3 separate regions of the Homo sapiens genome follow, and all the other regions are linked to region 1. The links come from fine-mapping of genetic effects on gene expression. A gene starts in region 1. Each other region holds a variant in brackets. All regions are shown on one strand. Distances are from middle to middle.

What was found.
Region 2: its variant is fine-mapped to the expression of LINC00853 in whole blood (INTERVAL, PIP above 0.99).
Region 3: its variant is fine-mapped to the expression of LINC00853 in whole blood (INTERVAL, PIP above 0.99).

Annotation. Positions count from the first base shown.
Region 1 is chr1:47,177,113-47,181,350 of GRCh38, forward strand. It overlaps LINC00853 (long intergenic non-protein coding RNA 853), which reads left to right and starts at 2,138. Exons shown (of 2, transcript NR_047498.1): 1 at 2,138-2,326; 2 at 2,756-3,227. CYP4A22-AS1 (CYP4A22 antisense RNA 1) reads right to left here and starts at 2,511. Exons shown (of 6, transcript NR_199717.1): 1 at 2,078-2,511; 2 at 1,013-1,337. RefSeq lists enhancers at 2,009-2,510, 4,136-4,238 and a cis regulatory region at 4,199-4,216.
Region 2 is chr1:47,591,550-47,595,787 of GRCh38, forward strand. No RefSeq gene overlaps it. Among named protein-coding and RNA genes, the nearest start is that of LINC01738, 95 kb to the right of the region's middle. The variant A/AC (reference allele first, on the strand shown) is at 2,173.
Region 3 is chr1:47,005,053-47,009,290 of GRCh38, forward strand. It overlaps a transcript of CYP4X1 not described here. Among named protein-coding and RNA genes, the nearest start is that of CYP4X1, 16 kb to the right of the region's middle. The variant C/A (reference allele first, on the strand shown) is at 2,291.

The DNA of each region.
Region 1 (4,238 bases):
GTGTGTACCCAAAGGAATAAATCATTATATTATAAAGATACATGTGGCTGGGTGTGGTTGCTCATGCCTGTAATCCCAGCACTTTGGGAAGCTCAGGAGGGTGGATCATCTGAGGATAGGAGTTCGAGACCAGCCTGAACAACATGGTAAAACCCCGTCTCTACTAAAAATACAAAAAAACAAAAAAATTAGCCGGGTGTGGTGGCAGGCACCTGTAGTCCCAGCTACTCGGGAGGCTGAGGCACGAGAATTGCTTGAACCCGGGAGGAGGAGGTTGCAGTGAGCAGAGATTGCACCATTGCACTCCAGCCTGGGTGAGGGAGTAAGACTCCATCTCAAAAAAAATAAAAAAATAATGATACATGCAAGCATATGTTCATTGCAGCACTATTCACAGTAGCAAAGACATGGAATCAACCCAAATGCCCATAAATGATAGACTAGATAAGGAAAATATGGTACATATATACCATGGAATACTATGCAGACATAAAAAGGAATGAGATCATGTACTTTGCAGGGACATGGATGGAGCTGGAGGCCATTATCCTCAGCAAAGTAACACAGGAACAGAAAACCAAACACTGCATACTCTCACTTAAAAGTGGGATCTTTTAAGTGAACAAAAAAGAGGGGAACAACATACAGTGGGGCCTGTTGGGGCAGGGGTGGGGAGAGCATCAGGATAAATAGCTAATGCATGCTGGGCTTAATATCTAGGTGATGGGTTGACAGTTGCAGCAAACCACCATGTTTTTACCTATGTAACAAACCTGTACATCCTGCACATGTAGCCTGGAACTTAAAATAAAATTAAATTAAAATTAAAAAGAAAACAGCACCACCACCATCAAGGAAAGCCTGTTCCCAACCTCCAATTCCAGCTCACTAGCTCAGCCTGTCTCATTCCCCTTTTTCTCTCTCCCCTCTCCTCCCTGCCCCTTTCCTCACTTTGCCCCCACCTGTCCTCACCATCCCACCCCATACCTCCAAGCTCACAGCTAGAACTGACCAAAGGCCCAGTTATTTATTTACAAAGTCCATGTCCAGAACTGTACCAGCCTCAGCGGTGTGGAATAAACTGGTGTGGCCAGGTCCATTGTGCTGATGCCTCAAGAGATCCAGGCTGGTACAGATGGGTCTGGCACATTCTGTACCTGCCAGCCAAGCAGAGCATCCAGCTTACTTCTCACTCGACTCCTTACATAACGCTCGTCGGGTACTCTCCATTCCTTGGGCTTAAATTCCATAGTGTAATATTAGTAAACCAGGCTAAATGATCCTAAGGATCTTGCTAGCTCTGACGCACCGTGATCTTGCATCCAATTCAGTTCACTCTGTAATAAATAATCATAATAACAATAGTAATTTTCCAAATAGCTAACAGTTATTGTGTACTGTATGCTAAGCACTATTCTATGTATTTCATGTGAATGTTTAACATTCATAACACCACTTATCATGTAGACATCATTTACTGCCCTAATTTACAGTGAACTGGAGCTCCGAGAGTCACGTTGATTTAACCACAGTCCCAGGCTACCAAGTGTCCAAGCTGTGCTGCTTCCAAGCTGCCTGACCCAGACCTGAGCTCTTAACCTCTCAATGGGCATCCAGGTCGAAAGCAGAATCTCTGGCTCAAGTGCCGACTGCCCAGCTGTTTCAGAACTCCACCATGCACCCAACTGCTCCTCCAGGACTTCCCTACGGATGTGTTGCAGGCTCTGAAACGTCACACATCCACGCCGCATCCTCATCCCACACATGCTCCTGCTTGTCCCTGGCATCTGCCATTCTCAGTGCCATTCACTAGCCTATATGATGCCTTCGAATCAGAGGAAGTTACCTCTCCCTCCAGGGATACGGGCCCACACCTGGTCTCAGGGACCCTTTAGTGGAGGCACAGTCTATATAGCCCAGAGCAGTGCCCCTGATGCCATCGTCTTCCAATTTGCTCAGAGCAGACACTGGGATTCATCCTTAATATCTCTCTCTTCTCTCTCTCTCTCTCTCTCTCTCTCTCGCGGAGGCCCCACTGCCCTTGCATTCCACAGGAAGTCCCAGTTGCTGGCATGACCTGAGAGGTTCCTGGGACCACGCCATGGAAATGCGTCCGGTCCCAGTGTGACGGGGAAGAGCCGCGCCTGAAGCTCAACTTCCGAGGCTCTCATCAATCTACGCTTCCTTTGGAGCGTGCAGCCACCAGGTGGCAGCCGAGGCCACGGGCAGACAGAAAAGCTCCCGAAACTGAAGGACTGCCAGGCAGCAGAGTTCCGGAGGGCTCCCAGGACCTTCAACCAGAAAGAGACAGAGCATATGCGCATATGTATGTCTGAGCCCGTGCACGGAGGAGGAGTATGAACAGACACCGCGGGACAGATGGCTGGAGTTTAGTCCCTTCCTTCGGGGCTCTTCACCACTCCTTGGGCTTCCCTTCTCCTGTCCAGCCCTGTCCTGGGTGCACAGAGAGGGAAGTCACTCCATTCCTGCCCTTGAGGAGCTCCCAGACCCAGGGCAGGAGCAGGATGCAGACAAGTAGACAGCACCCTGGGGTGGGTGGAGTGAGTGGGGCAGGTGGGGCGGGTGCAAAGAGAGGGAGGAGCAGGGGCTGAAGTTGCCCGGAGGAAGTGCTGAACCCAGGAGTGGGGAAAGGAGCATCTGGGAAGAAATGGCATCTACGCTGATCATGGAGGGCTTTCTGGCAAGTCTCAGGAGCAATAATAACACGGATGTCATCTCTGTTTCCTCCCAGCAGCCCTGCAAGGAATGTACTATAGAGCCAATTTTACCGGCAAAGGAATGGAAGATCTGAAAGGCTAGGCGATCCCACAAGCATCGAGGAGCAGGCTGGAATTTGAACCAATCGGCATGATTCCCAAGCTCAAGCTTTTGGCCACCCCTGCACTGCCAGGGACAAAAAAAAAAAAAAAAAAAAACCCTGGGAGGAGAGCCAAGCTAGGGAGTCAAGACCCTCCAGCCAGGTCTGGATGGGAGGCAGGTGCCTCCACCCTGGTCCCAGAGCAAGTTCTGCTGGCTTCAGCCACCTGACTTCCCTGTGAAGGTGGGTAGAGGCCAGAGCAGACTGTGTGTGATTCTGGCCCCAGCCCCAGCACCTCTACCCCCACCTTTACTACCCCTAGGCTGCGGGAAGAGGCTTTGCCCAGCAATAGTCCTGATCTAATGGATCCTTGAAGCACAATAAACAGATAGTATTTCTGCATGTGTCACTCTGAGTATGACGGCAGTAATCTTGAAACTCCCCTTGACCACCTGGCACTCTGGAGACGGAACTCCACAGCCTGTTTTCAAAGCCAACTCCTGGCTGGAAGTTCCTCTTCAAGTCTAAATGAAGTAAGCAGTGCTGCAGTCTTCCCTCAACTGTGCAGTTGCTGGGTGGAGGCTTTTCTTTTCTGCCTGAGTTTGGGTATAACCTATAATGTAACCCTATGAAACTTACATGTTTTAGGTGGGAGAGGGGAAAACAAGGTGCAAGCCCTGTTCCAGGAAGAGCAAAAATGTCCTCAACAGTAAGAGGACATTCTGGGCTGAGAGCCAGGGCTTGAGGCAGCCTGCAATCCTGGCAGATAGCTGGTGGAAGGGACCACAGAGAGATGATACCACACACAGAAGTGAGACCAATGAGATCGTGGGAACTGCCCGGCCAAGGGTTGACATCAAGGAAGCTTAGGAGGCAGGGGACAGCTGGGAAGGGGACAACCAAGAGAACCAGCTGGAAACTGAAAAGGGATGCAAGAGAGAAAGAGGAGGTGGGCACTGAGCTCAGGTGGAGGAGGAGAAAGGCAAACAGGAGAGAGAGAGGCAGAGGATGAGACAAAAACAGAGGTGGAGAGACTGAGAAACAGGGAGACAGAGATGGATGGAGGCTGGGAGAGACAAAGAGGAGACAGGCCTGGGCAGGAGAGGTCCTACGTGGGGAGAAAAGGTTGGGAAGAGAGCAGGAAAGAGAGAAGGAGCACAGGTGTCTGGAGGTTCCCACCAGGCCCAGCCCACCCCTCCTGCAGGCTGGGTCTCTCCCTTGTCTGCCAATCACGAAGCTCAGGATCCCCTCCCTCAGGGCTGGGGGTGGAGAGCTCGCCTCCAGCCCCGCCCTAGTCCAGAGGCTCCCCCTCCCCAGGCCCTGGGAGGCTGCCCCTGGGACTGGCTGTGCAGCGATAGATGGTGGGGGCCCAGCTGGTGCGTTATCAGCCTTCTCCAGGAGCGCGCCTGAGCCACTCCGT
Region 2 (4,238 bases), 410 kb after region 1:
GGTGAGTGTGCGTGTGTAACTGTTGTGTGTGTGTAGTGTGTGTGTGAATCTGAGGTGAAGGTGAGTGTGCATGTGTAACTGTTGTGTGTGTGTAGTGTGTGTCTATGAGATGGTGAGTGTGCGTGTGTAACTGTGTTGTGTGTGTCTATGAGGTGAAGGTGAGTGTGCGTGTGTAACTGTGTGTTGTGTATGAGTCTATGAGATGAAGGTGAGTGTGCGTGTGTAACTGTGTTGTGCGTGTTGTGTGTGTCTGTGAGGTGAAGGTGAGTGCGCATGTGCGTGTGTAACTGTGTTGTGTGTGTGAGTCTATGAGAAGGTGAGGTGCATGTGTCACTCTGTGTAGTGTGTGAGTCTATGAGATGAAGGTGAGTGTGCACAACTGTGTGTTGTGTGTGTGTAGTGTGTGTGTCTATGAGATGAAGGTGAGTGTGCGTGTGTAACTGTGTGTTGTGTGTGTAGTGTGTGAGAGAGTCTGAGATGAAGGTGAGTGTGCATAACTGTGTTGTGTGTGTAGTGTGTGTGAGTCTGAGGTGAAGGTGAGTGTGCGTGTGTAACTGTGTTGTGTGTGTAATGTGCGTGTGGGTCTGTGAGGTGAAAGTGTGTTTGCGTGTGTAACTGCATGGTGTGTGTGCGTGAGATTCTGTGTTGTGTGTGCACAGCCAGCAGCATGTAGAGGCAGGGAGGCCTGGTGGAGCACACCTGCTTCCCGGTGACTCCAAGTCTTCCCAAGGGTTTTCTTCCTTTGAAGTGGGCGGCAGGAAGGAGGGGCACTGAGAGCTGGCAGTGAGGGGCCAGCTCAGAACCCAGAAGCCCTTTTCAGGGGATCGAGCATCTGGGCCGCAGAGGCCCTCGGAGATCCTGCTGCCCAGCTACAGCTCACCTGCAGCGCCTGCAATGCCGTCGGGGCTGAACAGGCCAGTGCTGTAGCTGCCTCCCCGCCAAGGCCTCTGCCTGCTGCACCTGCTGCCCTGACCTGTGTGCTCCCTATTGTAGCTGAGCCCAGGACTGGGGCAAAGAGGCTAGGAAAACCTTGCCAGGTGAGCAGTTTTTGGAGCTGGCACAGTGCTCAAAATAAAATGAAACAAAACCTGGACTGGAACTCAGGAGTCGTGGGCCTGTCGCAGACCTGCTGGTGATCTTGAGTAAGCCCCTTGCCCACTCTGGGTGCCGAATGGATGAGCCTGGATGCCCTCTCAAGATCAAAGGGAACGATGAGGCCTGTCTGATCTCCCAGCTTCAGAGGCAAAGTCCTGTGACCCATTGAAAGTAATTTTATCTCCCAGCTCCTGAGCGCAGGTGCTGAGTGGGATTCAGTGAAGGGCTGGCGCACGGGGAGGGCATCAGGAAGTGCTAGAGGAACTGGACTGGGGACTGATCCCCTGGGGCTACTGAGTCTATGCCCCAGGTAACTGGCTGGGCACAGACTTCATCCCCAGGCTCTGGGAGAGAGAGGGGGAAGGGGAGGCAGGGCTGCCACTAGCCCTTAGGACTTGTTCGTGCGAATTAGAACAATTAGAAAAAGGCGCTCAGTGAGTGGAGCATCCTGGCAAAACCGGACTGGTGAAGGTTCTGCGCGCGTCTGCCAGGTGCCAGGGAAGGTCTCCCAGCGGTCTTGCGCGGAAGGCGTTATCAGCCCCGCTTATTAGATGAGGCGGCGCCTGCAGTAGAGGGGGCCGTCTCCGCAGGGTCTGCAGCGCCGGGGCCCGCACCTCCTGCTCCGCGGCCCGCCGCCGCCAGCCCGGGGCTGACCTCTCAGAGCAGGGCGGAGGATTTTCACAGCACAGCTTCCCGAGAGAGCGGGATTAAGGGGGAACTGCTCGGGTGGGCCAGAGCCAGGGGCTAGGGGGAGGCCGGGCGGAAACCCAAAACCTCCGCAGCTGTTTCCAGTTTGCCGCCCTGGCTGGACCGCGGTGGCTGCGTGCAGAGCGAGCAAGGCTGCGCGGGCCTGGAGCGCCCACGGGGCGCGGGACCTCTCTCTGTCTCCCCCCGCCCCGCGGGGCTCTCTCTCGTCCTCTCTGTCTTGGTGGGGCTCAGTCTGTCTCTCGTTTTCTCTCCCTGTTTCTAAGATCTCGTGGAATCAAAGACATTTTGGAGGTCTCTGGTCCATCTGAAAGGGGGATACTGGGTTCACCCGATCCCACGCTTTGCCTTCTAGAGCTTGCTGCCCTGGAC[A/AC]CCCCCCACCCCATTCCCCCACCCCGACCCCGCCCCTCGGCCCCCAGCTCCAGGCCCGCCAACCCCGCCAACCCCGTTGCACTCCCATGCAGAGAGGTGGCCCTCCAAGCCCAGGGTTCAGAGCTCAGGTCAGGAGTCCTGGCAAGGGCTTTGGGGACAGGCTTTGCCTCCCAGCCAAACTCTGCCCTTCAGGCCCACACCCTCCTCTCCTGGGCATCTTTTCCACCTGCCTGCACCCCTAAGCCCCAGGCTTACCCCATGGGAGTCCCCATGAAGGTCCAGGGTCCCAGCACTGACTTTATACTCTAGGCAGAGGCAGGAAACCTCCAAGCCCCGCTCCCACCCAGGAGTCAAACCCTGGAGACAGCTCAGACAGAGATTGAGCAGTAGTGGAGGAGCCAGGGCCTGCGCTCTGGAGTCATACAGATCTTGGTGCAAATTCTGCTTTGCTGCTTACTAGCTGTGCTCCCTTGAGCAGACACCTTGAGCCTCAGTTCTAAGATGAGGGTGTACTCAGGAAGCAGTAGGTGCAGTGCTTGGCGCAGAATAGGCTTCAGGGCACAGGGGTTCTGCTCAATCCCTCTACAGCCCAATACTCCATATGATCCCATCACTCTCCTGTTCTAATGCCTTCCATGGCTCCCTAGTACCTATAGAATAACCCAAATCCCTCTATTGACAGTACAGGCCTTCTATGATGGCTTCCAAATCCACCTTTCATGCTCTTACCTCAAAAGCACTAGAGAGAGGCTGGAACAACACACTCCACGTTCTCCTACTGCCATGCTTTTCCTCAGTCTGTAGCTGTCACCAGGAACACATTTCCCACAACCTCCTGCTTGCCCACATATTTATGCAACTTAAGGTCTGCAAGGCCTTGCCTGGTGCCTTTCCTAGTCAATCTGCCAGAAAGGAGTGGTTTATTCCTTGCTTCACTTGACCATGCAGCTTCACAGACAATCAGCCAGGCCCTCAGCTGGGCAATGGGGTCAGAGAAGAGTAAGACCAGCCATATACTTGGGTAGCTCGAGTCTGGGGGGTTAGACCAGGTTCATCCTTGGCATCTGGCAGGTGCGGTGGTCTTCCAGGGAGGGGAGCATGTGGGCAGGTACTGCCGAGGGCAGCTGGCAGGAGCCGAAGTGGGTACTCTCCAAGAGCTGGCTCTGGCCCTCTCTTCTCTCCACAGCATGTGTCCCCACCAGACCTCATCACTTACCAACTCATCCACAGTAGAACTCCTGGGTTGAGCCTTAGAGTTTAAACTTCAAGTCATAAGCTGGGGCTGAGGCCACTGGTTTGCCACCTGATATAGTTTGGGTATTTGTCCCCTCCAAATCTCATGTTGAAATTTGATCCCCAGTGTTGGTGGTGGGGCCTAATGGGAGGTGTTTGGGTCATGGAGGTGAGTCCCTCATGAATGGCTTGTTGCTGTCCCTGAAGTAATGAGTGCATTACTGTTAGTTCACTGGAGAGCTGGTTGTTTAAAAGAGCCTGGCACCCCCGCCCCACTTTCTTGCTCTATCTCTTTCTATGTGACACACCTGCTCCCCCTTCACCTTCTGCCATGATTGGAAGCTTCCTCAGCCCTCACCAGAAGCAGGTGCCGGTGCCATACTTCTTGAATAGCCTGCAGAACTGTAAGCCAAGCAAACCTCTTTACTTTATAAATTATCAAGCTTCAAGTATTCCTTTATAGGAATGTAAAATGGACTAAGACCACCTTAGACAGGAAGCCCCTCCACAAGCAGGGGTTTCCAGCTTCCAGTAGCTCTCCTTTAGGCCAAGGAACTCAACACCCCCAGATGGGCGAGGGAAGAGTCAGCTACACCCATGTTTGAATTTTGCTTTCATTGCTTCCTTGCTTTAAAACCTTGGGCAAGTTCCTTAACCTGCTATAGCCTCAGCTGCTGCTTCTGGAAAATGATGATAAATAGAGATAATATAATAGGAGGTAATATAGAACAGTGCTTCTTAAACTTTAGTGTGCATCACCTGGAGGGCTTGTGAAAACAGATTGCTGTACTCCACCTAGGAAATTTTGATTCAGTAGGTCTGGGATGGGGGTT
Region 3 (4,238 bases), 170 kb before region 1:
GTGTCCACCTAAGGTCAGAGACATCTGATACTCTAAGATTGGACCTCAAAGGGGGATGCCCTGAGGAATCCTCTGGACCTCAACCTCTCCAAAGGGGATGCACTCAGAAGAGGTTCTGAGGTCTAGTACTAAGCAGTCCTTAGAATTTTCTCTTGGAGTTGCAATACTGTTTGGCCTCAATATTGCTTGGAATCTAGAGTTTACCATTGAATGGGAAAGTGGGATGGTGTTGCATGTATCCAGACTTAGGTGCTGCTGTCCCAAGCAGGGGGCTTGGTTAATGTGTGATGCTCTCCTTTGGTGATGTTTGGCCCCAGTGCTCTTTGGAGTCTGGGGGTTTGGCCTTTAAAAATCAAACTGCCATGGAGACTGCTTTACCCAAAATTTTGGATCACAGTCTTTATTGGATTATCTATTGGGGCAAAGTAAAGCCGGTGAGCTTTATTGCTATCTCATGGCTAGCATTCCAAGCTATTGGATCTTCATTTATATGTGTGTATACAAGTCTAGATGTGTTTATTTGTATGTACACTTATTGTTATATGTTGTGACTAGCAAATTGGCTTATAAGTAAAAGAGTGGTCATATATTAAATGATTAAGTGTAAGCAATTTTCAAGTTCAGGTAACTTAAGTATAACTTTACTAAAAAAGCTGGCTTTAAAATTATCGGTGGAACAAAACCAGAAATGCCTTCAGAATTGTCAGCATACATTTTGTCTGAATTTTATATTTGTCTTTGCTAGACATTTTGAGATGTCAGTGTTTGGCATAGAAAGTTATAAAACTATAAGCCCAGTCAAAACAAAATGATTTGACTTGTGTGCCTTTTTTGACAAATGAGAGTAATTTAATGTTAGCTAAATCTCCTGAGTTATTGGCAAAAATACCTATGTATTTAACTTTGAGACATGTACTTAGGTTTAGGTGAGCACCTGATGTTCACTGGCTATTAGAAACATGGTTAACAAGGGAATCACTAACTTTAAAATGATAGTGTCTAATATCTCAGTTTACAGAAGTAATCTAGATAAACTGTTAAAAGTGAAAGAATCGAGTCCAGTGAATGGGGTAAATGTTTTACATAAACTTTTTGTGTAAATTAAAATCTTAAAATTATTTTTGATCCTCATTTAATATCTGGGTCATTTCCAATGAAGAAAGGTTTGTGATATAAGGAAATATGGTTCTAAAAACTGTGGAATTGTTCTTATCTATAAGTGCCCACATCTGATAGTTCAGGATTTCTTGCTTTTTGGGATTTCACTAAAGTTTTAGGTTACCAAGCATAAGAATTCTAGTAGACACATAATTCTGTATACAAAATGTCCCAGAAAGCGTTATGTTATTAGTGAGAAAAAGAATAACTTTGTCTGATTCAGAAGTTATCTAAGAGAGGTGGAGCCAAGATGGCCGAATAGGAACAGCTCCAGTCTACAGCTCCCAGTGTGAGTGATGCAGAAGATGGGTGATTTCTGCATTTTCAACTGAGGTACCGGGTTCATCTCACTGGGGAGTGTCAGAGAGTGGGTTCAGGACAGTGGATGCAACACACTGAGCATGAGCCAAAGCAGGGTGAGTCATCGCGTCACCCAGGAAGTGCAAGGGGTCAGGGAATTCCCTTTCATAGTCAAAGAAAGGGGTGACAGACGGCACCTGGAAAATTGGGTCACACACACCCTAATACTGTGCTTTTCCAATGGTCTTAGCAAACGGCACACCAGGAGATTATATCCTGCGACTGGCTTGGAGGGTCCTATGCTCACGGAGCCTCGCTCATTGCTAGCACAGCAGTCAGATCAAACTGCAAGGCGGCAGCGAGGCTGGGGGAGGGCACCCAAAACTGCCGAGGCTTGAGTAGGTAAACAAAGCGGCTGGGAAGCTCAAACTGGGTGGAGCCCACCACAGCTCAAGGAGACCTGCCTGCCTCTGTAGACTCCACCACTGGGGCAGGGCATAGCCAAACAAAAGGCAGCAGAAACCTCTGCAGACTTAAATGTCCCTGTCTGACAGCTTTGAAGAGAGTAGTAGTTCTCCCAGCACGCAGCTGGAGATCTGAGAACAGACAGACTGCCTCCTCAGGTGGGTCCCTAAACCCCGAGTAGCCTAACTGGGAGGCACCCTCCAGTAGGGGCAGACTGACACCTCACACGGCCAGGTACTCCTCTGAGACAAAATTTCCAGGCAAACGATCCGGCAGCAACATTTGCTGTTCACCAACATCCGCTGTTCTGCAGCCACCGCTGCTGATACCCAGGCAAACAGGGTCTGGAGTGGACCTCCAGCAAACA[C/A]CAACAGACCTGCAGCTGAGGGTCCTGACTGTTAGAAGGAAAACCAACAAACAGAAAGGACATCCACATCAAAACCCCATCTGTACGTCACCATGATCAAAGACCAAAGGTAGATAAAACCACAAAGATGGGGAAAAAACAAAGCAGCAAAACTGGAAACTCTAAAAATCAGAGTGCCTCTCCTCTTCCAAAGGAACACAGCTCCTCACCAGCAATGGAACAAAGCTGGACGGAGAATGACTTTGACGAGTTGAGAGAAGAAGGCTTCAGATGATCAAACTACTCCAAGCTAAAGGAGGAAGTTCAAACCCATGGCAAAGAAGTTAAAAACCTTGAAAAAAAATTAGACGAATGGCTAACTAGAATAACCCAATGCAGGGAAGTCCTTAAAGGACCTGACGGAGCCGAAAACCATGGCACGAGAACTACGTGATGAATGCACAAGCCTCAGTAGCCAATTCGATCAACTGGAAGAAAGGGTATCAGTGATGGAACATCAAATGAATGAAATGAAGTGAGAAGTTTAGAGAAAAAAGAATAAAAAGAAATGAACAAAGCCTCCAAGAAATATGGGACTATGTGAAAAGACTGAATCTATGTATGATTGGTGTACCTGAAAGTGATGGGGAGAAGGGAACCAAGTTGGAAAACACTCTTCAGGATATTATCCAGGAGAACTTCCCCAATCTAGCAAGGCAGGCCAACATTCAGATTCAGGAAATACAGAGAATGCCACAAAGATACTCCTCGAGAAGAGCAACTCCAAGACACATAATTGTCAGATTCACCAAAGTTGCAATGAAGGAAAAAAGGTTAAGGGCAGCCAGAGAGAAAGGTCGGGTTACCCACAAAGGGAAGCCCATCAGACTAACAGCTGATCTCTCGGCACAAACTCTACAAGCCAGAAGAGAGTGGGGGCCAATATTCAACATTCTTAAAGAAAAGAATTTTCAACCCAGAATTTCATATCCAGCCAAACTAAACTTCATAAGTGAAGGAGAAATAAAATACTTTACAGACAAGCAAATGCTGAGAGATTTTGTCACCAGCAGGCCTGCCTTACAAGAGCTCCTGAAGGAAGCACTAAACATGGAAAGGAACAACCAGTACCAGCCACTGCAAAAACATGCCACATTGTAAAGACCATCAAGGGCAGGAAAAAACTGCATCAACTAATGAGCAAAATAAACAGCTAACATCATAATGACAGGATCAAATTCACACATAACAATATTAACCTTAAATGTAAATGGGCTAAATGCTCCAATTAAAAGACACAGACTGGCAAATTGGATAAAGAGTCAAGACCCATCAGTGTGCTGTATTCAGGAAACCCATCTCATGTGCAGAGACACACATAGGCTCAAAATAAAGGGATGGAGGAAGATCTACCAAACAAATGGAAACAAAAAGGCAGGGGTTGCAATCCTAGTCTCTGATAAAACAGACTTTAAACCAACAAAAATCAAAAGACACAAAGAAGGCCATTACATAATGGTAAAGGGATCAATACAACAAGAAGAGCTAACTATCCTAAATATATATGCACTCAATACAGGAGCACCCAGATTCATAAAGCAAGTCCTTAGAGACCTACAAAGAGACTTAGACTCCCACACAATAATGGGAGACTTTAACACCCCACTGTGAACATTAGACAGATCAACGAAACAGAAAGTTAACAAGGATATCCAGGAATTGAACTCAGCTCTGCACCAAGTGGATCTAATAGACATCTACAGAACTCTCCACCCAAGATCAACAGAATATACATTCTTTTCAGCACCACACCACACCTATTCCAAAATTGACCACATAGTTGGCAGTAAAGCACTCCTCAAAAAGAACAGAAATTATAACAAACTGTCTCTCAGACCACAGTGCAATCAAACTAGAACTCAGGATTAAGAAACTCACTCAAAACCGCTCAACTACATGGAAACTGAAC